Regions from separate parts of the Homo sapiens genome. Here region 2 is linked to region 1. Evidence: fine-mapped expression QTL. A gene starts in region 1. The other region holds a variant in brackets. All regions are shown on one strand. Distances are between the middles of the regions.

The links.
Region 2: its variant is fine-mapped to the expression of LCNL1 in whole blood (TOPMed, PIP 0.90).

What each region holds. Positions count from the first base shown.
Region 1 is chr9:136,978,949-136,990,279 of GRCh38, forward strand. It overlaps LCNL1 (lipocalin like 1), which reads left to right and starts at 4,045. Exons shown (of 3, transcript NM_207510.4): 1 at 4,045-4,760; 2 at 5,542-5,615; 3 at 5,765-6,810. The coding sequence starts at 4,639. The coding sequence ends at 6,063. PTGDS (prostaglandin D2 synthase) reads left to right here. Exons shown (of 7, transcript NM_000954.6): 2 at 45-184; 3 at 275-351; 4 at 998-1,114; 5 at 1,235-1,336; 6 at 1,885-1,907; 7 at 2,631-2,794. The coding sequence ends at 1,907. RefSeq lists enhancers at 1-595, 5,383-5,940, 5,941-6,496 and a silencer at 11,289-11,331.
Region 2 is chr9:137,000,587-137,011,794 of GRCh38, forward strand. ABCA2 (ATP binding cassette subfamily A member 2) reads right to left here. Exons shown (of 49, transcript NM_001606.5): 36 at 11,048-11,163; 37 at 10,821-10,968; 38 at 10,600-10,723; 39 at 10,387-10,519; 40 at 10,034-10,151; 41 at 9,607-9,785; 42 at 9,397-9,538; 43 at 9,183-9,317; 44 at 8,955-9,058; 45 at 8,784-8,876; 46 at 8,365-8,467; 47 at 8,145-8,282; 48 at 7,830-8,036; 49 at 6,648-7,378. The coding sequence ends at 7,343. Among named protein-coding and RNA genes, the nearest start is that of CLIC3, 9.6 kb to the left of the region's middle. RefSeq lists an enhancer at 9,850-11,049. The variant A/G (reference allele first, on the strand shown) is at 6,853.

The sequences.
Region 1 (11,331 bases):
TCCGGAGGGTCCTGGCCGACGCGGGTGGGGGTCGCTCGCCGCAGTTCCTGGGGCGCTGGTTCAGCGCGGGCCTCGCCTCCAACTCGAGCTGGCTCCGGGAGAAGAAGGCGGCGTTGTCCATGTGCAAGTCTGTGGTGGCCCCTGCCACGGATGGTGGCCTCAACCTGACCTCCACCTTCCTCAGGTGGGACAGCGGGCAGGTGGGTTTCTGGGACGGAGAGGTCCAGGGACACCCTCGGGCCTAACCCCTGACCCTGAGGTCACCCACCTACAGGAAAAACCAGTGTGAGACCCGAACCATGCTGCTGCAGCCCGCGGGGTCCCTCGGCTCCTACAGCTACCGGAGTCCCCGTGAGTGGGGCCTCCACCGGCCCCCTGGGCCCAGCCTGGGGGCGACACTTGCCGGGACGACTCTGGGCCAGCCCCCTGCCGCGGAGATCCATGGGGTGGGAGGTGATGGCTGCCCCACCAGCGTCAGAGGCAAAGGCCAGGCCTGGGCGTGACTACCCATGCACAAGTGTTAGGGACAGAGAGACCCTTCCTCCAGGGGGTTGGATCCTCTCTGGAGCCCACCATTGTCTTGTCAGGCCCCTTCCCTGCCCTCTGGAGTTTTCCCCACATAAGCAGCCCCCCAAGGCCCCTCCATATGCCTCCTCCCAATTCTCCTCCCCAGGACCCAGGGGTTTCCTCACTCCCACCTGGGGAATGGCTCCCACGGGGAAACCTCTTCACTTCCGGTTCTGGCAGCGACTTCTGCGGCTGCACCAGGAATCCTGGTTTTCTGAGCCTGGCTCCCCCAGATTCTGGTTTGGGGACAGGGTTCACAGGCTGTGCAGGCGAGAGCAGGGCACTGGCTGGAGAGCAGCCGGGTGGGGGAGCATCCCGGGCCAGCCGAGGGGCTGAGTGCCCCCAAAGCCCACAGGTGCACCCCTTCCCTGAAGCAGAGGTGAGGTTTGGGGGGCTGAGTCCCCGACAGGGTTGTCTCTTGGGTTCCCAGACTGGGGCAGCACCTACTCCGTGTCAGTGGTGGAGACCGACTACGACCAGTACGCGCTGCTGTACAGCCAGGGCAGCAAGGGCCCTGGCGAGGACTTCCGCATGGCCACCCTCTACAGTACGTGCCCCGTGGACGCCGCCCACACGCAGGCCTGACCAGAGGGGGCTCCCCAAGACCCAGGGCAGGGCACACAGCATCCCCCCCGCTGAGGCCAGCTCCGTCTCCACCCTGTCCCAGGCCGAACCCAGACCCCCAGGGCTGAGTTAAAGGAGAAATTCACCGCCTTCTGCAAGGCCCAGGGCTTCACAGAGGATACCATTGTCTTCCTGCCCCAAACCGGTGAGGGGTCCTAATCTGATGGGGAGAGGATCAAGGTCAGATTAGAGGCAGGCAGGCAGTCTCCTGACTGGGGGAGGCAGAGGGGAGGAGGTGGCCCCGCCCTGCTCGAGGCCTGGGCCAGGGACAGAGGGGGTGAGTGTTCAAGTCAGAACCTCCCTCCCGCAGCCCCTTCATGAGGAGCCCCCTCCATGGGGGACATGGAGACCAGGCGCCCACTCTGTGCCAGGCCCCAGCAGCTCCCAGGATGTGGGGCTTCAGCCTGGTGGGGGGCATAGGGTAGAGGGTGCCCATGGGGGATACAGGGGAACCAACCATACTGGGCTCAGGCACAGCCTCCTAGGGGTGGACAGCCTGCTCTTGGCAGAGGTGGAGAAAGACCCTCTCTTTGTTTCCAGTGCCCAGGGAGAGGTGGGAGGTGATGGGGGATCTGTGCAGTTTGGGGGCTCAGTCAAGACGAGCTCTGCGTTACGGGAGGAACAGGAAGCCCAGTGGGAAAATTGGCCTAAGTCTGGGGTTCTGACGACAGCCCCTGGCTTCTTTCTTGGCAGATAAGTGCATGACGGAACAATAGGTGAGCCACTCCATTCATTCATTCATTCATTCATTCATTCATTCATTCAACACACATCCACCCAACCCACTCTGCGATGGGATGGATCAGGGCCCCAGGACAGCCTGGTGCTGCAGACCCATCCTTCCCGATGGCTGCAGTCCAGGGCCGGGCGGGAGACACTGGGGCTGCCCACATTGATGGGTGCACAGGTGTGAGGCTCAGAAGGAAAACCTGTCCCAGTGGCTGGAACAGGGCTGACTCCTGAAGGCTCATGGTTGGGGGGTGCAGGTGCGAGGCCCCAGGCAGACAAGGCCAAGGGGCTATACCACAGGGACCACCTGGCAGCAAGGGTGTCTGGCTCCTGGGCTAGGAGGAAACCAGGGTGGGGGAGACAGGATGGGAGGGAACAGGGGATGGAAGGGGAGGGCCAAGGACGCTACATGGATGCCGTGGGACAGCTCGGAGAGCAGGCTCAGGGCGGATTCACCCACCACCCCCAGGAGGGAGGCCTAGGCTGGAGCTGGAGTCTGTGGACCCTGGGGCTGGGAAGGGTGGAGTCTGTAGACCCTGGGGCAGCGGGGATCCAAGCCCCAGGGATGGATCTTGCTCTCTCAGCGGGGCTCAGTGGGGCTGGGGGCAGAGAAAAGTCCCCGTAGCCCGCACCTGCTCCATCGACTGGAGTGGAGGTGGGCTGGGGTAGACTGCAGTCCTCCATCCTAGCCTTTCGGTCACACCCCTCAGGACTCCCCAGGGCTGAAGCTGGGATCCCGGCCAGCCAGGTGACCCCCACGCTCTGGATGTCTCTGCTCTGTTCCTTCCCCGAGCCCCTGCCCCGGCTCCCCGCCAAAGCAACCCTGCCCACTCAGGCTTCATCCTGCACAATAAACTCCGGAAGCAAGTCAGTAGAGCTGGCTCCTGGCTGTCTGCGCTGTCATCACCCGTCCTGGGCCTGGCCCTGGCCACCCGGACCTCCCCCTCTAAAATCTCAGCCTGACGTCAACAAAGGAACAGGCCCTCTAGTGTTTGCTCCCAGTGGGGTCTTGAGTCAGGACAGCTAGGAGGGGGTGTCCCTCACTGTCTCCCACCCACCCCACACAGTCGTGTGCCCCTGCCCCACAGCCCCACACGTCGAGCCATACCCCCTCAGCTGCCACTGCCACCAGGCCGGTGCTGAGCTGGGGGTCAGTGACTCAGCTAATCCCTTAGGCAGGTGCCCTGCACCCCCAACGCCACCCTGTCACCCCCTCAGCAGTAAAGGCCTGAGGCTCGAGGCCCCAGAGGAGCTTTGGACCTGTTGGGTATCTTGAGGTGTGGGATTAACGCACTGAGATTGGGCAGAGATAAGGGTTTCAGGGGACAAAAAGAAACATTTGTTTGAAACATGCCAGAGTGTCTCCACCCCGCATCAGGACAGACTGACAGAGTGGGCTGGGGACAGGCTACCCCATATCCCTTCTGGCTCCCTGTGCGCCCCCTGCCCTCTGACCTGGGCCTCCAGATCACAGCCTTGTCCACTCACCAGAGCCCTGGCACCACGGCCACACCATGCCCGGCCAGTGCCCTGCCCAACCCTGCTCCCTTCCAGATTCCCACCCAGGCAGCCATTCTCAGGTACACAATGTGCAGGACTCACTGTGACCTGCCCACCAGGCCCCCCCGAGGCAGACCCTGCAGAGGCACCAAGCATTTTGAGGCTCGGAGGTGAGGGTGAGCTTCTGGGTGGCCTTCCCGGAGAAGGGGGCTTAGGGCTGTGCCTGAGCTCAAGGTAGGGGGGATTCCAACATCCCAGAGGGGCTGCAGAAGGCCGAAGAGGCAGGATGGGTGAGCTGCAGGCCCCCTAGCCCAGAGGCCCGTCAGAACTACCCTCAGCTGCCAGGCATCCGGCCCCACCCCGGAGGAAAGGCAACGGATGGCTGGGGTTGGGTGGAGGGAGCCAGGCCAGAGCGCTGCAGGGTGCAACTTGATCAGAAGCCTGTCACAGTGGGTGCAGTCCCAGGCCAGCCGCCCCAGGGCACCTCAGGGGCGTAAAGCCTACAGAGGAGCCACCTCAGCTCTGCCCTGCTCCCGTGTCCGGAGGAGATGCCATCTTGCTGCATGATGCTTCGGGCTCTGCTGATCAGTTCCCTCCTTGCCCTGCTCTGGGCATCCCCAGGCCAGGCCCAGGTCCCCATCCAGGCCAACTTTGATGCCAGCCAGGTGTGCCCAGCCCTGTTTCCTCCTCATCTCCAATGAGTCCTCCCGGCTTTGGTGCTGCACCCCGGGTCCCTGTCCACACCCTCTTTGATCCAGGCTCAGCAGGGCTAGGGGCAGGGGAAACCCCCACCTCACCCGCTCCGTCTGACTGGAGTAGGGGTTGGCTGGGGAAGACTGCAGCCTCCATCCTACCTTTTCAGTTGCATCCCCCAACAATCCCCAGGGCCCAAAATAGGGACAAGTTGGTTGCCTGTGCCTCACTGTCCCCCACCCACCCCACAAAGACCTGTGACCTTGCCACAGCCCCACCCATCCAGCCGTACCCCCTGGGTGCCAGCTGCAGACAGGCCGGTGCTGGGCTGGTGGGGGCCAGTTGCTCATGTACTGAGGCCCCCCTCCCTCAGTTCTGCATCGGGGTCGAGATGTGTACAGCAGCCCCTGCCGTGGCCAGGAAGCAGCTGTGTCGGGGCAGAATGTGGTGGGCTCAGGCCCAGGGCACAGGGGCGGCCTCCCAGCCTTCCCTGCACTTGCCCTGCAGTTCCAGGGCACCTGGTACATGGTCGGGGTGGTGTCAGATGACCAGGACTTCCTGGACTCCAAGGACACCATGAAGATGGCTGTGGTCTTAGTGACCCCCTTGGGGAATGGTGACCTGGCCCTCAAGTTTGGATACCCCACGTAAGTGACCACACGAGCCCATCAGACTCAGCCTCAGAGGATGGCCAGCATGAGGCCACATGAAGGTCCAGAGGGACCATGGTGTCCCCAGCACATTGAGGTCAGACCACGGGTCCTCGACGGCTCTGTGCGGCAGAGCCCCAGATGGCAGCCACACGGAGTCCAGAGGGACCCAGGCCCTGGAGGAAGCACTGCCTGAGGCCTGGTGTTGAGAAAAGTGTCTGCATGTCTGTGTCTGTGTGTGTATCACTGTATGTGGCTGTGTCTCTGTGTATGTGTGTCTATTTCTGCATGTGTGTGTGTCTGTGTGTGCGTGTGTATGCATGTGTGTCTTTGTAGATGTGTACCTCTGAGTGTGTATGTGTGTATCACTGTATGCGTCTGTGTGTCTGTGTGTCTGTGTATCTGTGTCTGGCTGTGTGTGTCTATCTCTGTGTGTGTCTTGTGTGCGTGTCTATGTGTGTGTCTGTCAGTGTGTCTGTGTCTGTGTCTATCTCCGTGTGTGTGCATGTGTGTATGTGTGTGTCTTCTGTGTGTCTGTGTCTGGAAGGGGGACCTGGAGGCCCTGCATTCTAGGCTGTGTGCCTGTGAACAGGTACTTAATACCCACCCCACCCCCAGCAGGAGTGTCCCCACCTCTAAGGTCATCCTAAAGTCCCATGTCCTCTAAGGATTGTGAGGGTGAACAGGGGACCCTGGGCTCAGAGACAGCAAGGTAGGCTCTAGGCCTGGGCGCTGGGCAGGGGTGGCCACTCAGGGGATTGGGGCTCTTTCTCCCCAGGCCCCATGGCGGGTGCCAGAAAATGGACACGACCTTCACCGAGGGTGCTGTACCGGGGCAGTTCAGCAACCCAGGTGAGGTGGGGCAGCAGGCAGGGCTGTGGCGTGGGGGCCCTGGAGGCTGCATGGACTGCTGGATTGGCACCTGGGGCCGGGGCGTGAGGGGTGCCACGCTCGGGGGGGAGGTGCCCTGGGCCTGGGGTCAGCGGCTCTCGCTCCTCCAGCCATGGCCCTGAGTGACATCCGAGTGGCCTTCTCCGACTACCAGCACTTTGCCTTGCTGTACTTGGAGATGCGGAAAGGGGGCCTGCGGAACCAGTGGCTGCAGCTCTACGGTGGGCGGGCTGCGGGGCGGAGACCCAGACACCCCCGCTTCGGGTCTGGGATGTCACCCCTGTGCCTGCACCAGCCCTTTCTGCACGCGGAAGGTGGAACCGCTGGCTCCTGGTGTCTGTGGCCGCGGGTCCCGGCCCCTCCCTGCCCCTCTCTCCCTCTCTTCGCCCCTCCAGCCCCTTCCCTTTAGCTTACCCGCCCTCCCCACCTTCAGCTCGAGCGCCCGAGCTGTTTCCCGAAGGCGCCCAGAAGATGCAGCTACTGGCGCCCCAAGTGGGCCTGAGCCCCAGCCAGGGCGTCCTGCTGCCGAAGTCGGGTGAGCGGTGCCGGCAGCCCTGCTGGGAGGGCCAGGCCCCGGGTCACACCCCTGCTGGAAGGGCCAGGCCCTGGTCACTCCACTGATCTCAGATTCGGGACAGAAGTGCCCGGGGCAGACCCAGCCTGTCTGGGTCGGGGGAGGGCGAGACGTTGCCCAGGCCGGTGTTCCCAGGAGGAGATCGCCTTGGGGCAGGTCGGGGGCCTCCGTCCCAGGGAAGGGGGCGCGGGGTGGCGCCTCAGGCTCGATCTCTCTGCAGACCAGTGTGCGGGCGCGCTCTCCCGGGTGAGTAGACCATGGCCATGCGGAGCCGCGGACCATGGGCCCTCCCAGCTCGGTGGGCTGCACCGCGGGGCCCTCTACCTTCGGGGCAGCTAGGGACGACAGCGGGGGTGATGGGGCACCCGGGCGGATCCGAGCCGCAGCAGCCTGGGGAACCGCGGGGCTGCGCGTCGGGAGGGGGCGGAGGCAGGGGACGCCGCCCACCTGCTCCTTGTTTTGCAGTGAGGGGTCCAGCCCCTGAGTGCCCGCAGGGGTCAGCTGCTCCGTGCGCCCAGCCCTGCCCAAAGAGCCCCCTCCCTCCACACCCTGGCCCCAAGCGCAATAAACACCCTGAATGCCTGTGGCGCTGTGCGTTTCTTGGGGGCAGGGAGGGGTGGCGGGGGGGCGGCCAGGTACATGGGCGCCCTGGGGGAGGGGCCGGGTCACCCCCTGTTGCCCCTCTGGGTAGGCGTTAGCCCAGGAGGGACCGAGCCTCGGCTCCGTGGCAGGGAGGTTCCTCAGGACGGGCCCCAGCCCCAGCTCTGGGACTTTTCTACCTCCGCACGGACCCAGACCCCCAGACTGGGGGCGCCGGGAGGGCGGGACACGGACACCACGCGGCGCGCGCCCCAGGCTTCAGCGGACACCGCCGCGCGACGTGGCCTTCCGGGTCCTCCCAAGCGGCTGCCCCAGTCAGTGTCGGCGGCTTCCATCCCCAGGCGCCCCTCCGGGTCCCCCAGCTCCCCAGCCCCTGACTCCTGGCTCCAGGACCCGCCCCAGAGGCCTGGCTGTTCCGGAGACCAACGAAGCGCTCCCAACTCTGACCCAGGGCCTGTCCACGGAGAGTGGAGGGCGAGGAGGACAGGAGGAGCCGCATAAAACTCTGCCCTGCCTGGAGTCTATGTAGGACAGTGTTGTCTTTTACAGACAAGTCTCGAAGAATTTGAAGGAAAATAGCCTACTAGCTGTAATGTACCTAGTTCAGCAAAATAATAATAAAAATACTGGTTGCAAATCTGTGAATATTTGGATAGTGTTTAATCTGGGTGATGGGTCTACGGGGTGCAGTATGCTCTGATTTCTCCTTCTCAGTTGGTCAGAGTTTTGTTTGTTTGTTTTTTTGAGATGGAGTCTCGCTCTGTCGCCCAAGCTGGAGTGCAGTGGTGCGATCTCGGCTCACTGCAAGCTCCACCTGCCAGGTTCAAGTGATTCTTCTGCCTCAGCCTCCCAAGTAGCTGGGATTACAGGTGATCGCCACCACGCCCTGCTAATTTTTGTATTTTTAGTAGAGACAGGTTTTGCCATGTTGGCCAGGCTGGTCTCAAACTCCTGACCTCAAGCGATCCACCCACCTTGGCCTCCCAAAGTGCTGGGATTACGGGCGTGAGCCACTGGGCCCAGCCCAGAAAATTTGTTATTAAAAAACACCACTCGGGCCGGGCCCAGCACTTTGGGAAGCTGAGGCGGGCGGATCATGAGGTCAGGATATCGAGACCATCCTGGCTGACACGGTGAAACCCCGTCTCTACTAAAAATACAAAAAATCAGCCGGGTGTGGTGGCGGGCGCCTGTAGTCCCAGCTACTCGGGAGGCTGAGGCAGGAGAATGGCGTGAACCTGGGAGACGGAGCTTGCAGTGAGCCAAGATTGTGCCACTGCACTCCAGCCTGGGCCACAGAGCGAGACTCTGCCTCAGAAAAAAAACAAAACAAAACAAAAAAACACCACTCGGCGGAGCACAGTGGCTCTGCATCCCCCCTGCATTCCCAGGAAGATTCCGAGCCGGGAAATGCAGGTTGCCCTCCACAGCCTCAGGGATGCCCTTTCCTTCCTTCCAGGGTGGGGCAGCCTCTGGGGGTGGCTGTGGGTCCAGCTGTGGTCAGCCCCCAATCCCTTGCAGACGCATCGAGTCCCTCACCTCCCACGCTCAGCCCTTTCTCCACCTAGAAGCCCAGGGGATGGATTCACAAGATGTGTCAGATCAGGCCCCCCTGCTCAGCACCCCACAGTGGGTCCCATTGCACTGAGAGTAAAGGCCTAAGTCTTTTTTTTTGGAACGAAGTTTCGCTCTTGTTGCTCAGGCTGGAGTGCAGTGGCGCGATCTTGGCTCACTGCAACCTCTGCCTCCCGGGTTCAAGCGATTCTCCTGCCTCAGCCTCCTGAGTAGCTGGGATTATAGGTGCCCGCCACCACGCCCAGCTAATTTTTGTATATTTAGTAGAGACGGGGTTTCACCATGTTGACCAGGTTGGTCTTGAACTTCTGACCTCAGGTGATCCACCCACCTCGGCCTCCCAAAGTGCTGGGATTACAGCCGTGAACCGCCATGCCCGGCCTCAGGCCTAAGTCTTGATGGTGGCCAACAAGGTCTTCTCTTTTAGGCTTTCCTTTGACCCACCATCCACTCCCCTCCCTCCGTCCTGCTGCCAGCCCCTCACGTGTCTCAGGGCCTTTGCCCAGGTCACCCCTGCCTGGACTGCCCTTCTCCCAGTGCCACTCAGTGCACTCACTCCCGTCTCTGAAGTCTTGCTCAAATACCTCCCTTGGTTGTTGACCTCTGCTACCCCAAAACTTGACTGGCCCCCACTCCCCTAGAGCTCGTTCTCCGGACCTTTTGCTCCTCTTTTTGGCCCAGCTTCCAGGTGCTCTATGCCTTGGGAAAGGTCAGCCCTTTCCCTCCCCTGTTCTGCCTCCATCACCGACTTCAAGTGTGTGCGTGGGGACTTTGTAATCCCTCTCCTTCTGCTTGCAAAGCTCCACTAACCTTATATCTCATACACTGTATTAATGTATCCTACATTAAAGAAAATTGCTCCCATGGCTGGGTGCAGTGGCTCATGCCTGTAATCTCAGAGCTTTGAGAGGCCGAGGCAGGCGGATCACCTGAGGTAGGAGGTCGGGAGTTCGAGACCAGCCTGACCAACATGGAGAAACCCTGTCTCTACTAAAAAATACAAAAATTAGCCAGGTGTGGTGGTGGGCATCTGTAGTCCCAGCTACTCGGGAGGCTGAGGCAGGAGAATCGCTTGAACCTGGAAGGCAGAGGTTGCGGTGAGCCGAGATCGCACCACTGCACTCCAGCCTGGGCGACAGAGCGAAACTCCGTCTCAAAAAAAAAAAAAAAAAAAAAGTATAAAAAAGTATCTCAGAGAAGGACGTGGTGGAAGCCAGTGGAAAAGCTGCTGCCAGTAGATGAAGCTGGCCCGATGTGAGCCACGAAACAGAACATGACACCAGGGTGTGAGCCAAAGTGTAAAATAAACACCTGAGGTCCACACGGACCCAGCCTGAGGCTAGTTAAATGAAGGTTTTGCAGTTTTCTCGTCATGTTTTGGAACTAATCTTTGTTTCTGGTCTTGTGTCAGTTCCTACAGCTGCCACAAATTATCACAAACTTGTAGCTTGAAGCCAGAGTTCAAAATCAGTTTAATAGGGTCGAGGTATCAGCCGGGCTGTGCTCCCTCCGAGGGCTCTAGGGGAGAAACCTTCCTTGCCTCTTCTAGCTTCTTTGTCTTCTTTTTTTGTTGTTGTTGAGACAGAGTCTTGCTCTGATGTCCAGGCCAGAGTACTATGGCGCGATCAGATCACTGAAGCCTTGAACTCCTGGGCTCAAGCAGTCCTCCTGCCTCAGCCTCCTAAGTAGCTGGGACTACAGGCATGCATCGCTATGCCTGGCTAATGTTTTCTTTTTAGAGATGGGTCTTGCTGTCTTGCTCAGGCTGGCCTTGAACTCCTGGCCTCAAGCAGTCCTCCCACTCTGAACTCCCAAAGCACTGGGATTGCAGGCATGAGCCACTGGGCCTGGCCTCTTCTGGTGGGATACCCTACCTTGTTTCCACCTGAGTGACCCTCTCCTGGCAGAGAGAGAGCCGGACACACTCCATTTTAGTTTCTTCACCTGCGGCCCCCTTTCACCTTCCTCCCTGAAGGCATAGCTAGTGTAAACTGACTCAAAGCACGTCCAGGAATGCACCTACTGATAAGACATTGAGGCAAGCTGCACCAGCAGCTCCTGGGGACACGCGTGGTGGATGGCACCCAAAACCCCTGCATTTATCTCTTTGTGATAGTTTAAGCCTCTGCACCTGGAACTGTTTATTTTTTGTAACTGCATTTGTAACCAATTAATTTTTTTAACTTTTTGCCAGTTCTGCTTCCGTAAAAATTGCTTCAGCTAAAATCCCCCCTCCCCTATTTAGACCACGGTATAAAAACAAAACTAGCCCCTTCCTCGGGGCCGAGAGAATTTTGAGCGTTAGCTGCCTCTCAGTCGCGGCTAATAACGGACTCTTTAATTTGTCTCAAAGTGTGGCGTTTCTGTATAACTCGCTTGGTCACAACACTGGCTTCTGATAGCAGCCTGTAATCCTTGGCTTGTGGGCTGCATCGCTCCAGTTCCTCCCTCCATGCCATGCTGCCTTCTTTTCTGTCTCAAAGCTTCCTCTGCCTCACTTTTAAAAGGCCCTTGAGATGGCACTGAGGGCCTCCCTGGGCAATCCAGGATAATCACCCCATCTCAAGGGAATATCTGCAAACACTCCTTTCTTTTCTTTCCTTTTTTTGGGGGGAAGGGGAGACAGGATCTCACTCTGTTGCCCAGGCTGGAATGCAGTGCCCAGCATCTTCCATAGACAATAGCATTCACAGGTCCCAGGGATTAGGGCCTGATATCTGGGGCCTGCTACAGCCAGCATCTCAGAGTTCACATGACAAAGAAGAGGCCCCCCAGTCCTCTCCAAATCTGCCCCACCCCAGTCATCTTGGGGATGAATCTCCCCTTTCCACTCTTCCCAAATGCCAGGGCCATCCTTGATTGTTCTTTGTCTCCTCCTCCCTCCACCTCCAGTCCGAGCCCATGGTCCACCCCTCTCCTCTGCAGCCC
Region 2 (11,208 bases), 22 kb after region 1:
AGGCTGCTGCTCTGGGACTGACTGACTGGTGGGTTAGAACTCTCTCCCTCCCCAACACCCCTCCCTGTAGGCCCCTTCCAAGGGGCTCTTTTTTTTTTTTTTTTTTTTTTTTTTTGAGACAGGGTTTCACTCTGTCACCCAGGCTGGAGTGCAATGGCGCAGTCATAGCTCACTGCAGCCTCCACCTCCTGGGCTCCAGTGATCCTCCTGCCTCCGCCTGCACAGGGCCACACCCCAGTGACATTTGAGCAGCTCTGTTCTGAAGGGAGACACACACCTGTTTGGGGGGCCGGAGGGCTGGGGGCATTGGGGTATTGGTGCAAACTTGTGCAGAGATTTATCTGCTCTGTGCATGGAGAGAGCCTAGAAGCAGTGAGACCTCGGGAGCGGTGAGACCTCGGGGGCGGCGAGACATCGGGGGCGGCGTGACCTCGGGGGCGGCGAGACCTCGGGGGCGGCGGGACCTCGGGGGCGGCGGGACCTCGGGGGCAGCGAGACCTCGGGAGCAGTGTGCAGACCAGAGCTCAGATTCTGGTCCCAAAGCCCATCTTCCCTAAAAGGAACCAGGGTTCTGCTAGGGACTGAATGTGTCCTCCCCAAAATTTGTGTGTTGAAACCCTGGCCCCTAGGCCAGGCACATGGCTCACGCCTGTAATCCCAGCACTTTGGGAGGCCGAGGTGAGTGGATCACCTGAGGTTGGGAGTTCCAGACCAGCCAGACCAAAATGGGGAAACCCTGTCTCTACTAAAAATGCAAAATTAGCCGGGCGTGGTGGCACATGCCTGTAATCCCAGCTACTCGGGAGGCTAAGGCAGGAGAATCGCTTGAACCTGGGAGGCAAAGTTTCCGGTGAGCCGAGATCACTCCATTGCACTCCAGCCTGGGTGACAAAGCGAGACTCTGTCTCAAAAAAAAAAAAAAAAACAAAACAAAACCCTGTCTCCTGCAAGGTGATGGTGTTAAGAAGTGGGGTTGGCTGGGCGCGGTGGCTCAAGCCTGTAATCCCAGCACCTTGGGAGGCCGAGGCAGGCGGATCACAAGGTCAGGAGATCGAGACCATCCTGGCTAACATGGTGAAACCCCATCTCTACTAAAAATACAAAAAATTAGCCGGGCGTGGTGTCAGGCGCCTGTAGTCCCAGCTACTCAGGAGGCTGAGGCAGGAGAATGGCATGAACCCAGGAGGCGGAGCTTGCAGTGAGCCAAGATTGCGCCACTGCACTCCAGCCTGGTGACAGATCGAGACTCAAAAAAAAAAAAAAAAAAAAGAAGCGGGGTCTTTTGGAGGTGGGTAGGTCATGAAGGTGACACCCTCGAGATGACCAGAATCAGCGCCCTCATAAAAGGGACCCCGGAGAGCTCCCTCGCTCCTCCTGCCAGGTGAGGAGTCAAGGGAAGTCCACAACCCAGAAGAGCCCTCGCCAGAACCCAGCCATGCTGGCGTCCCGACCTCGGACTTCGAGCCTCCAGAGCTGTGAGGCATGAATGCCACCCGTCCAGGGTCCTTTGCACAGCAGTCCTGGTCGGACTGAGACAGGCTCCTTGGAGAGAGGCTGATTCCAGGTGTGGGGCAGGGAAGGCAGGGACGCACTCAAAACACATCAGGAGCTGGTTACGAAGACACAGAAGCCGTGCTGGAGGGGCGCCTGCTGGAGGGGCACCGCTGGCTGGACCTCAGGCCATCTGAGCATAAGACAACAGTGGATTGTGCGTTATGAATGGTTAACGTGATAAATGTTACATAGATTTTACCACCATCAAAAAATTTTAAAAGAGCCAGATGCAGTGGCTCACCCCTGTAATCCCAACACTCTGGGAGGCTGAAGTGGGAGAATCCCTTGAGCTCAGGAGTTGAAGACCAGCCTGGGCAATATAGCAAGACCCTATCTATACAAAAATAAAAATAAAAATTAGTCGTGTGTGGTGGCACATGCCTGTAAGGAGGCTGAGGCAGGAGGATCACTTGAGCCCAGGAGTTGGAGGCTGCAGTGAGCTATGATTGCACCACCACACTCCAGCCTGGGTGACAGAGCAAGACCCTGTCTCAAAATAAGTAATTAAAAGATGACAGTAATGCATGTTAACACATTAATTTTTTTAAACCTGCAAGTCTGTACTGATAGACTTTTTAAAGTGGAGGGGCCCTTGGTGAGAGAGAAATGCCAGCCAGTAGATGCAGAAATGGAATAGAGGCAGGAAATGGCCATTTTGCAGCTGCTGGCCCTGGGTGACGGGGGTCGGGGGGCGCGGCCACGCAGCACCCAGATTGCGTTCCCACATCTAAGGGAGGGAGAACTGGGCCTCAACCAGGCGGCCACATTCAGCATCACCTGCTGAGGGACAGATGGACACCTGGAGGTGACCGACACAGCGTGTCCCAGTGCTGCTCCGGCCAAAAATGTCCAACCTGCATCCAGCCAGGAGGAAATGAAGACACATCCAGAGCTCAGCCTGGGCCTGCGGAGCCTGTCCCCCTGGAAGGGCAAGAACGCCAAGGCTGGGGACGGCTCAGAGGGGCCCCGGGGAAGGCAGCAAGACACAAGGAGTGCCTCGTGGTTGGATCCTGGATTTTTATTTCCTTTTTTTGTTTGTTTGTTTGAGACAGAGTCTCACTCTGTCGCTGAGGCTGGAATGCAGTGGCACAACCTCAGCTCACCGCAACCTCCACCTCCCAGGTTCAAGCGATTCTCCTGCCTCAGCCTCCCGAGTAGCTGGGATTACAGGCATGTGCCACCACACCCGGCTAATTTTGTATTTTCAGTAGAGACAGGGTTTCTCCATATTGGTCAGCCTGGTCTTGAACTCCCAACCTCAAGTGATCCACCCGCCTCGGCCTCTCAAAGTGCTGGGATTACAGGTGTGAGCAACCATGCCCAGCCTTTTCTTTCTTTCTTTTTTTTTTTTTTTTGAGACGGAGTCTCACTCTGTCACCCAGGCTGGAGCGCTGCTCACTGCAACCTCCGCCTCCCAGATTCTAGTGATTCTCCTGCCTCAGTCTCCCATGTAGCTGGGATTACAGGCGCTACAATGCCCAGCTAATTTTGTATATTTAGTAGAGATGGGGTTTCGCCATGTTGGCCAAGCTGAACTCCTGATTTCAGGTGACCTGCCTACCTCAGCCTCTCAAAGTGCTGGGATGACAGGCTTGAGCCACAGCACCTGGCTGATCCTGGTTTTTTGGAAAAACTCTAAAGAGCATGCCTAGGGCCGGGTGCAGTGGCTCACATCTGTCATCCCAGCACTTTGGGAGGCCGAGGCTGGGAGATCACCTGAGGTTGGGAGTTCGAGACCAGCCTGGCCAACATGGTGAAACCCCCATCTCTACTAAAAATACAAAAATTGGTCAGGCACGGTGGCTCACGCCTGCAATCTCAACACTTTGAGAGGCCGAGGCTAGGCGATCACCTGAGGTCAGGAGTTCAAGACCAGCCTGGCCAACATGGTGAAACCCCATCTCTACTAAAAATACAAAAATTGGCTGGGCATGGTGGCACACATCTGTAATCCCAACACTTTGAGAGGCCAAGGCTGGGTGATCACCTGAGGTCAGGAGTTCGAGACTGTGGGCGGCAAGCTACCCAGGCACCAAGGCAAGAGACCGAGGACATGAGCTGTTCCAGTATAATAAAATATAAAACAAGAATAGTTATACCAGATATAGAACTTAGATATGATTATATATGAATATCATTAATCATTAGTTTGTAGCAATTACTTTTTATTCCAATATTATAATAATCCTCGCTCTATAATCATAGCCTAGGAAAAACCAGGCCATACAGAGATAGGAGCTGAGGGGACATAGTGAGGTGTGACCGGAAGACAAGAGTGCGAGCCTTCTGTTATGCCCGGACAGGGCCACCAGAGGGCTCCTTGGTCTAGCGGTGACGCCAGCGTCTGGGAAGACGCCCGTTGCCAGGCGGACCGTGGTCCAGCGGTAGCAAAAGGTGTCAAGGAACAACACCCGCTACTTAGCAGACCAGGAAAGGGAGTCTCCCTGTCCCCGGGGGAGTTTAGAGAAGACTCTGCTCCACCTCTTGTGGAGGGCCTGACATCAGTCAGACCTGCCCGCAGTTATCCGGAGGCCTAACCGTCTCCTGTGATGCTGTGCTTCAGTGGTCACGCTCCTAGTCCGCCTTCATGTTCCATCCTGTACACCTGGCTCTGCCTTCTAGATAGCAGTAGTCAATTAGTGAAAATACTAATAGTCCCTGATATGCAGAAATAATGGCATAAGCTGTCTTTCTCTCTGTCTCTTCTCTCTCTCTCTGCCTTGGCTGCCAGGCAGGGAAGGGCCCCCGTCCAGTGGACACGTGACCCACGTGACCTTACCTATCATTGGAGATGGCTCACACTCCTTATCCTGCCCCTTCTGCCTTGTATCCAATAAATAACAGTGCAGCCAGACATTCGGGGCCACTACTGGTCTCCACGCATTGGTGTTAGTGGTCCCCCGGGCCCAGCTGTCTTTTATCTCTTTGTCTTGTGTCTTTATTTCTACACTGTCTCGTCACCGCACATGGGGAGAGACCCACCGACCCTGTGGGGCTGGTCCCTACACGAGACCAACCTGGCCAACATGGTGAAACCCCATCTCTACTAAAAATACAAAAATTGGCCAGGCGCGGTGGTTCACACCTGTCATCCCAGCACTTTGGAAGGCTGAGGCTGGGGCAATCACCTGAGGTCAGGAGTTAGAGACCAGCCTGGCCAACATGGTGAAACCTCATCTCTACTAAAAACACACACACACACACAAAAATCAGCCGGGCATGGTGATGCGCGCCTGTAGTCCTAGCTACGCAGGAGGCTGAGGCAGGAGAATGGTGTGAACCCGGGAGGCGGAGCTTGCAGTGAGCCGAGATTGTGCCCCACTCCAGCCTGGGCAAGAGAGTGAGACTCCGTCTCCTCAAACAAATAATAATAAAAAATAAAAAAGGGCATGCCTGGGCCACCGGGGCCCTGAAAAGCCTTGCTGTACCCTTTGTTAACTCTGGGCTACCCTGGCGGCTCTTGGGGGAAGGAGGCTGCAGGGCCGGGGCTGGCAGGTCACAGCTGCTTGCTTTCACATGGGGCAGCACAAAAGTGGGTAGAGCGACGGTGCGTGTGGCAAGATTTCACAGGCGCATCGGCTGAAGATGCGGCGTGCGCTCTGCTATTCTCGCAACTTTCCTGAAAGTTTAAAATGTTCTTTTTGCTGTTGTTTTGAGACAGAGTCTCACTCTGTCATCCAGGCTGGAGTGCAATGGCACGATCTTGGCTCACTGCAGCCTCTACCTGCCAGGTTCAAGTGATTCTTCTGCCTCAGCCTCCCGAGCAGCTGGGAATACAGGCGCCCACCACCACACCCAGCTAATTTTTGTAGTTTTAGTAGAGATGGGGTTTCACCATGTTGGCCAGGCTGGTCTCGAACTCCTGACCTCAGATGATCCACCTGCCTCGGCCTCCCGAAGTGCTGGGATTACAGGCGTGAGCCACCGTGCTCGGCGGAAAATGTTCTGAGGAAGATGCTGGGGGGTGTGTTTGCTTTCAATGCTGCATTACACATCATGAAAATGAAACCTCTAGGGACGATGCCCCCGTGAACTGTGTCAGTCTGTGGGCGGCTGTCCAGGTCCAGCCTGGCCTGGTCCTGCGCGCAGGGTCTCCCTGGGCCTCGGCTGGGCCGTGTTCCTTTCTCGACCTCTTTCTGCCATGATTCAGCCCCTACAGTTGCAGGACGGAGGCTGCTGCGGCCTCCTGCCTTCTGGCGGCTCCCCCACGCATTTCCCTTGGCCGACCACCAAACCCACACCAGCCCCTCCAGTGAGCCACTGTTCCTCTCGGTTCTTCCAGAGTGAACCGCCCCCAGGGCCCAGGACAGCTTCACCCCAGTGACCCAGCCTCTCAGGGACTCCAGCATGGTCATCCCACTGCCTCTCAGGTGGTCACAGTGAGTGCCTCATAGGAACCCAAGTGGATGTGTTGGCCCAGCCCACCCAGTGCCCTCAAGCCCATGGGCCCCTCCCCTGTTGTCCCCCATGTGGCACCAGCCCTCAGTGAGTCCACCCTCTACCCTCCTGAGGAGCCTTGAAACGGCCTAAGGCAAGAGTCTGAACTTGGCCCAGATCACGGGGCGTGAGCTCTGGGGGCCATTCATGCCCCTCCCCCATCTCCTGCCCACAGTGTGCCAGGCTCCACCGCTGATGAGCCTCAAAGCTTCCAGGTCCTGCCTCCCTGGGGCCTTGGCCTGTGCCCTGCCCTCTGGCTGGGATGCCCTTCCCTTAAGGAATCTTCACAGACTTCGGTCTCCTCCTGGAGGTCGCCTCTTCCTGGAAGCCCTCGCTGTCCCTTCCATGACACGGAGACAGCCTAGCCCAGGCTGCTGCAGGCCCCACGTGGGCAGCAAGGGGTGAAGGAGGCTTAGAGAGGGCAGGTGGACGGGAAGATGAAGGCTAAGGGGAAGGGGGCCGGGAGCAACCCCTGAGGGTGGGATGAGGGGGACAGTGAACCATGGTGAACCACCCTGCCTCAGTTTCCCTCCTCCAGACCGACCCAGCCACCCCCTGCCAGCACCTGTGCCTGAGGGGCAGGGCCTTCTGGAGCGCTAACCCACCTGATGCGCCCATCCTCCCCACCCTTCCCAACCCACACACGCAGACCCGCAGACATTTTGTTTATTTATTTAAAACAAACATCTGTGCGCTATGTACAGGCCCGGCTCCCAGGGAGGTGGGCGGGCAGGGGGCCAAGCTGGGTGGGAGAGCGATGGCAGCTGGGGGTTGGGGGGGGTCTGGCCCCTTGCCTGGCCAGCAGGGTCAGCTTCTCCATTCCTGCCACCTGCCAGCTGGCCCAAGCTGATGGCTTCCCGC[A/G]GGACAGCCACCTCCCTGCAGGAGAGCAGGGCCAGAGGAGCCTCTTCTCAAAGCAAAATAAATACGGGACTGACCCAGCTCCGCCCACAGCCCGCTCTCGGCATCAGCCTTCATCGTAAGAGAGAAAAGCTGGTTCCGAGGCCGGGCAGGAGAAAGGCCAGCAGTGCCTGGTCCAGCCGGCGTCGCCTTGGGCGGTGAGCAGTGCCAGGCAGGGGCGAGGGGCCGGGCAGACCCCGAGGCTTTAAGGCAAAGCAGGGCAAGGGTGTACGCAGCCCGGGCCGGGTCAGCCTTTGGCACAATTAGGGGCGGCAACCGCAGTGACCACAGGGCATGGCCGAGTACAGGGGCTGGAGGACCAGAAGCCCCTTGGTCCTGAACCTCCACTCCAGGCCCTGGCAGGCACTGGGGGACTTCTGTCCCCATTGTTGAGTCCCTGGCCCAGCTCTGGGTGGTCAGTGGAGCGTGTCCTCCCTGGCCCAGCTCTGGGTGGTCAGCAGAGCGTGTCCGTGTTGAAGGACAGCTGGGCCTGTGCACAGGGGAGGTCAGGCTTATGGGGCATCCTGTGCCACCCCCTGCTGGGGCTGAGGACACTTGTGCTGGCCCGCCCCGGCCCTCCTGCAGGCTGGGCCTGGACGCAGGGTCTCCCCACGAGCTCCCTCTGTGTCTGGGCTCTCCCGGGCCTCCGTCTGCCGAGTCTGGGGGCCACTGAGTCTACATCGGTCCCCTGTTCCCCGGCTCTGGTCCCCTCTGCCCCACCCTTGCTCTGTGCCCCTCAAAGACTCTAGCAAGTCTGGACCATGCAGTTACGTCTCTCCAGGCCTATCTGCAAGTGTCCCTCGCCCACTCTGCCCCCTTGACCTCTGGACAGCAAGCATCCTGGGGCCAGTTCTCCCCCGACCCCACCCGCGGCTGGAGCCACCAGGCAGCCTGGGTCCAGTGGGCAGAGCCCTGGACAGCCATGAGAGCAGCCTGCTCACCCGCTCCTCCTCGAAGCTGATGAGGCCCTCGTCCTCCGTGTCCAGGTCCTCGGGCTCGTCTGCCACAAGTGCCCGGAGCTCCGTGGGGGCAGACCGGGGCCGGAGCAGGCTGAGCAAGCAGCCGAGAGGGGACTGCAGTGCGGATGGCGGCTCCGTCTCCTGCTGCTCCAGGTTGTCACTCTGCTTCTTGGCAAAGTTCACGAACACCTGGTGGGTGGCGCAGGCGTGTGGGGAGGGGGCTGGTCTGGGGTGAGGAGGGGCAGGGCGGGTGAGGGGAGGGGCAGGTGTGGTGCGCAGTGCCCTTGGGGCGCTCACATTGTCCAGTGTGGTCTGGCTGACCGAGTAGTCCTCGATGCCCAGCACGCCAGACACCTGCTCCATCTTGCTGAACACCTGGGCCAGCGAGATGTGCTCCGACTTGAGCTGGTACTGCACCTTTGTGTGGTGCCGCTCCTGCAGGGGGGGAGGTCAGAGGCCTGGCAGCGCCCCCCCACCCCGTAGCGCCCCCTCCACAACCCTGCCCGGGACGGCGCACCTTGAGCATGGCTTCCGGGAAGTTGCGGTTGAAGAACCGCACCACGTCCTTCACACTCTGGCTGCTCTTGGTCCGCACCGTGATCATGTAGCCATCTCCAAACCTGGTGGGACAGGCCGGTGGCCCGGAGCCCTGCGCCGCCCAGCCAGAGCCCCAGCCCCCCAGCCTCCCAGCCCTACAGCCCCCACAGGCACCCCAGGAAGCCCCATAGCCTCCCACAGCCCCCCAACCCCACAGCCCCCACAGCCCTCCAGGCTCCTCCCCTGGCCCCACTGCCCCAGTCCCCCCAGCCCCAGTGCCCCCAGCCCCCCTGGCCCCACAGCCCTCACAGCCCTGCAGCCACCCCCACTCCTGGCCCCGCTGCCTGGCCGCCCCCCCCGGGCCCGCCCCAGCCCACCCCTGGCCCTGCCCCGGCTCACCGGTTCTTCAGGTGCTGGATGCTGCCCAGGCACCGCAGGCGACCGTTCACCATGATGGCCAGCCGCGTGCACAGCGCCTCGCACTCCTCCATGCTGTGGGACATGCACAGGCTGGCACCGGAAGGGGTGCTGTGGGGTGGGGGCACAAAGAGGGGGTGGGGGCGCCCTCACCTGTGTGATGTCAGCACCACTGAACGCCCTGTCTTGATGAGGTCAAGGATGAGGTTCCAGAGGAAGCGCCGGGCCTTGGGGTCCATGCCTGTGGTGGGCTCGTCCTGGGGATGGGTGGCAGGCTCAGCTGCTGCCAGGCCCACACACCCCAGCCTGAACGCTGCCCCTGCCCGTGCTCACCAGGAAGTCAAAGGCCAGGCAGCCACCCCCCACCCACCCAGGACTTACCAGGAAGATGAAGGCTGGGTACCCAATGAGGGCGATGGCCGTGGAGAGCTTCCGCTTGTTGCCGCCGCTGTAGGTGCCAGCCGGCTTGTCTGCGTACTTGGTCAGCTCCAGCTTCTCCAGAGCCCACTTCACCACCTGGCCAGGGAACGCAGGTGTCAGTGGAGGCAGGGCCACCCAGCGTGCTGACTCCCTGCCCCGCCCCACAGATCCTCACCCGGGCCTCGTCCTTCCAGGAGATCCCACGCAGCCGCGTGTACAGCTGCAGGTGCTCCCGGGCCGTGAGCTCGTCGAACAGCGCGTCACACTGCGGGCAGTAGCCGAGGCTCTGCTGCACCTGGAGCAGCTCCTTCAGCACGCTGGGGACACGGCAGCTGTCAGCGCGTGAGGACGCGGCGGCCCCGCCCACCCAGGGCTCCCGCCCCACCTGTGTCCATTGACGAAGGCCTCGCCCCCCGTCGTGCTCTCGTCGCCGGTCAGCATCTTGAAGGTGCTGGTCTTGCCCGCACCGTTGACGCCCAGGAGCCCGAAGCACTCGCCAGGACGCACACCCAGGCACAGGCGGTCAACGGCCAGGATACGGCCAATCTTCCGGGACTTGTAGACCTGGCCAGGAGCCTGCCCACTCAGCGGGGCATCCTGCCCCCACCCTGCCCCTCTGGCCCCACCCCACCCAGACCCTGCCCCACCTCCAGAGCCCAGGGGGCCACGTGCCCCACAGCCCCACCCCATGCAGGCCCCACCCCCAGAGCTCAGGGCCCTGCCCACCCAGGCTCCACCTCCACTGCTGGGGCCCCACCCCCCTGGCCCTGGCCTACCCCACCCAGGCCCCACCCTACATGCCCAGAGCCCACCTTGGTCAGGTTCTCAATCTTGACCATGTCATTGTCGGCGTCTCCCCGGAGCACTCGCTGCCGCTCACTGGCCACGTCCACATCATCCTCCACAGGCTTGGTAGACACAGGCATGCGCCTTGGGGGACAGGGTGGACAGTGTCCAGCAGCTCGCCACCCCCACTGCCCCTCCCTGCCACCAGCCTCGCATCCTCTGGCTGTGGCATGTAAGAAGGGTGGGCAGGCCCCTCTGCTGTCCCCTGCCTCACCCCCTCCTGCCCCATCCCTGCCCCCACCCCCGCCCCTACCCTGCCCCACCCCCGAACCCATCCCTGCTCCCGCCCCGCCCCCGCCCCACCCCGCCCCCCACTCACTGTGGCCGCCGCAGGAAGTTGTACTGGCACATGATGGTCAGGAGGAAGCCCACGACGCCCTCAACCGCCATGGCCACCAGTCCGCGGGTGACAATGTCCCACTCGAACGGGGACTTCATCTTGTCAAACTGGCCTGCGGGGAGACAGCTCAGGGCCTGTGCTCTGGGCCTTGCGGGGCCCCCACCGCCTTCCCCGCCCCACGGGCCCCCTCACCAATCTTGGCGTAGTACTCGTTGATGTACTCGTTGTAGGCCATCTCCATGAGCCCGTGGCCCAGGTTGTAGTTGGGGAAAATGAGGAAGCAGCTTTTCAGGTAACTGTTGACAACCTTCAGGTCCTGCGGGGTGGCCGGGGTCAGGGGCACAGGGGTGGCCGGGGTGAGGGGCACAGCCTCCGCAGGGTCCGCCACCCCCACCATGTCGTCACCGCCCCACCTTGTCGTGCTCGAAGAGCTGTAGCAGGAAGGTGGCCACGGTGGCGGTGATGCCGATGAAGAGATTGATGACAATGAGGAACACGTAGGCGGAGCTGGGGACCTCGAACCAGAAGGAGGCCGGGTACATGATGGGCGTGATGGACCACCTGCGGGCAGGTGGCGGGCAGTGGTCACCAGGCAGCCCCGGTCCCACCTGAGGCCGCTCCCCCCTCCGCTTCCGCTTACCCATAGAGCAGGAAGAGGGAGAGGACGGCAGGGAAGTTGGTGGGCGACGTGTAGGCCGGCAGGTCGAACACAAACAGGATGATGACACAGCAGGTAGCGGGGACCAGGTAGTTGAGCTGCAGGGGTGGGGGCGGCTGGTGAGAGACCCGGGGCAGGGCGGG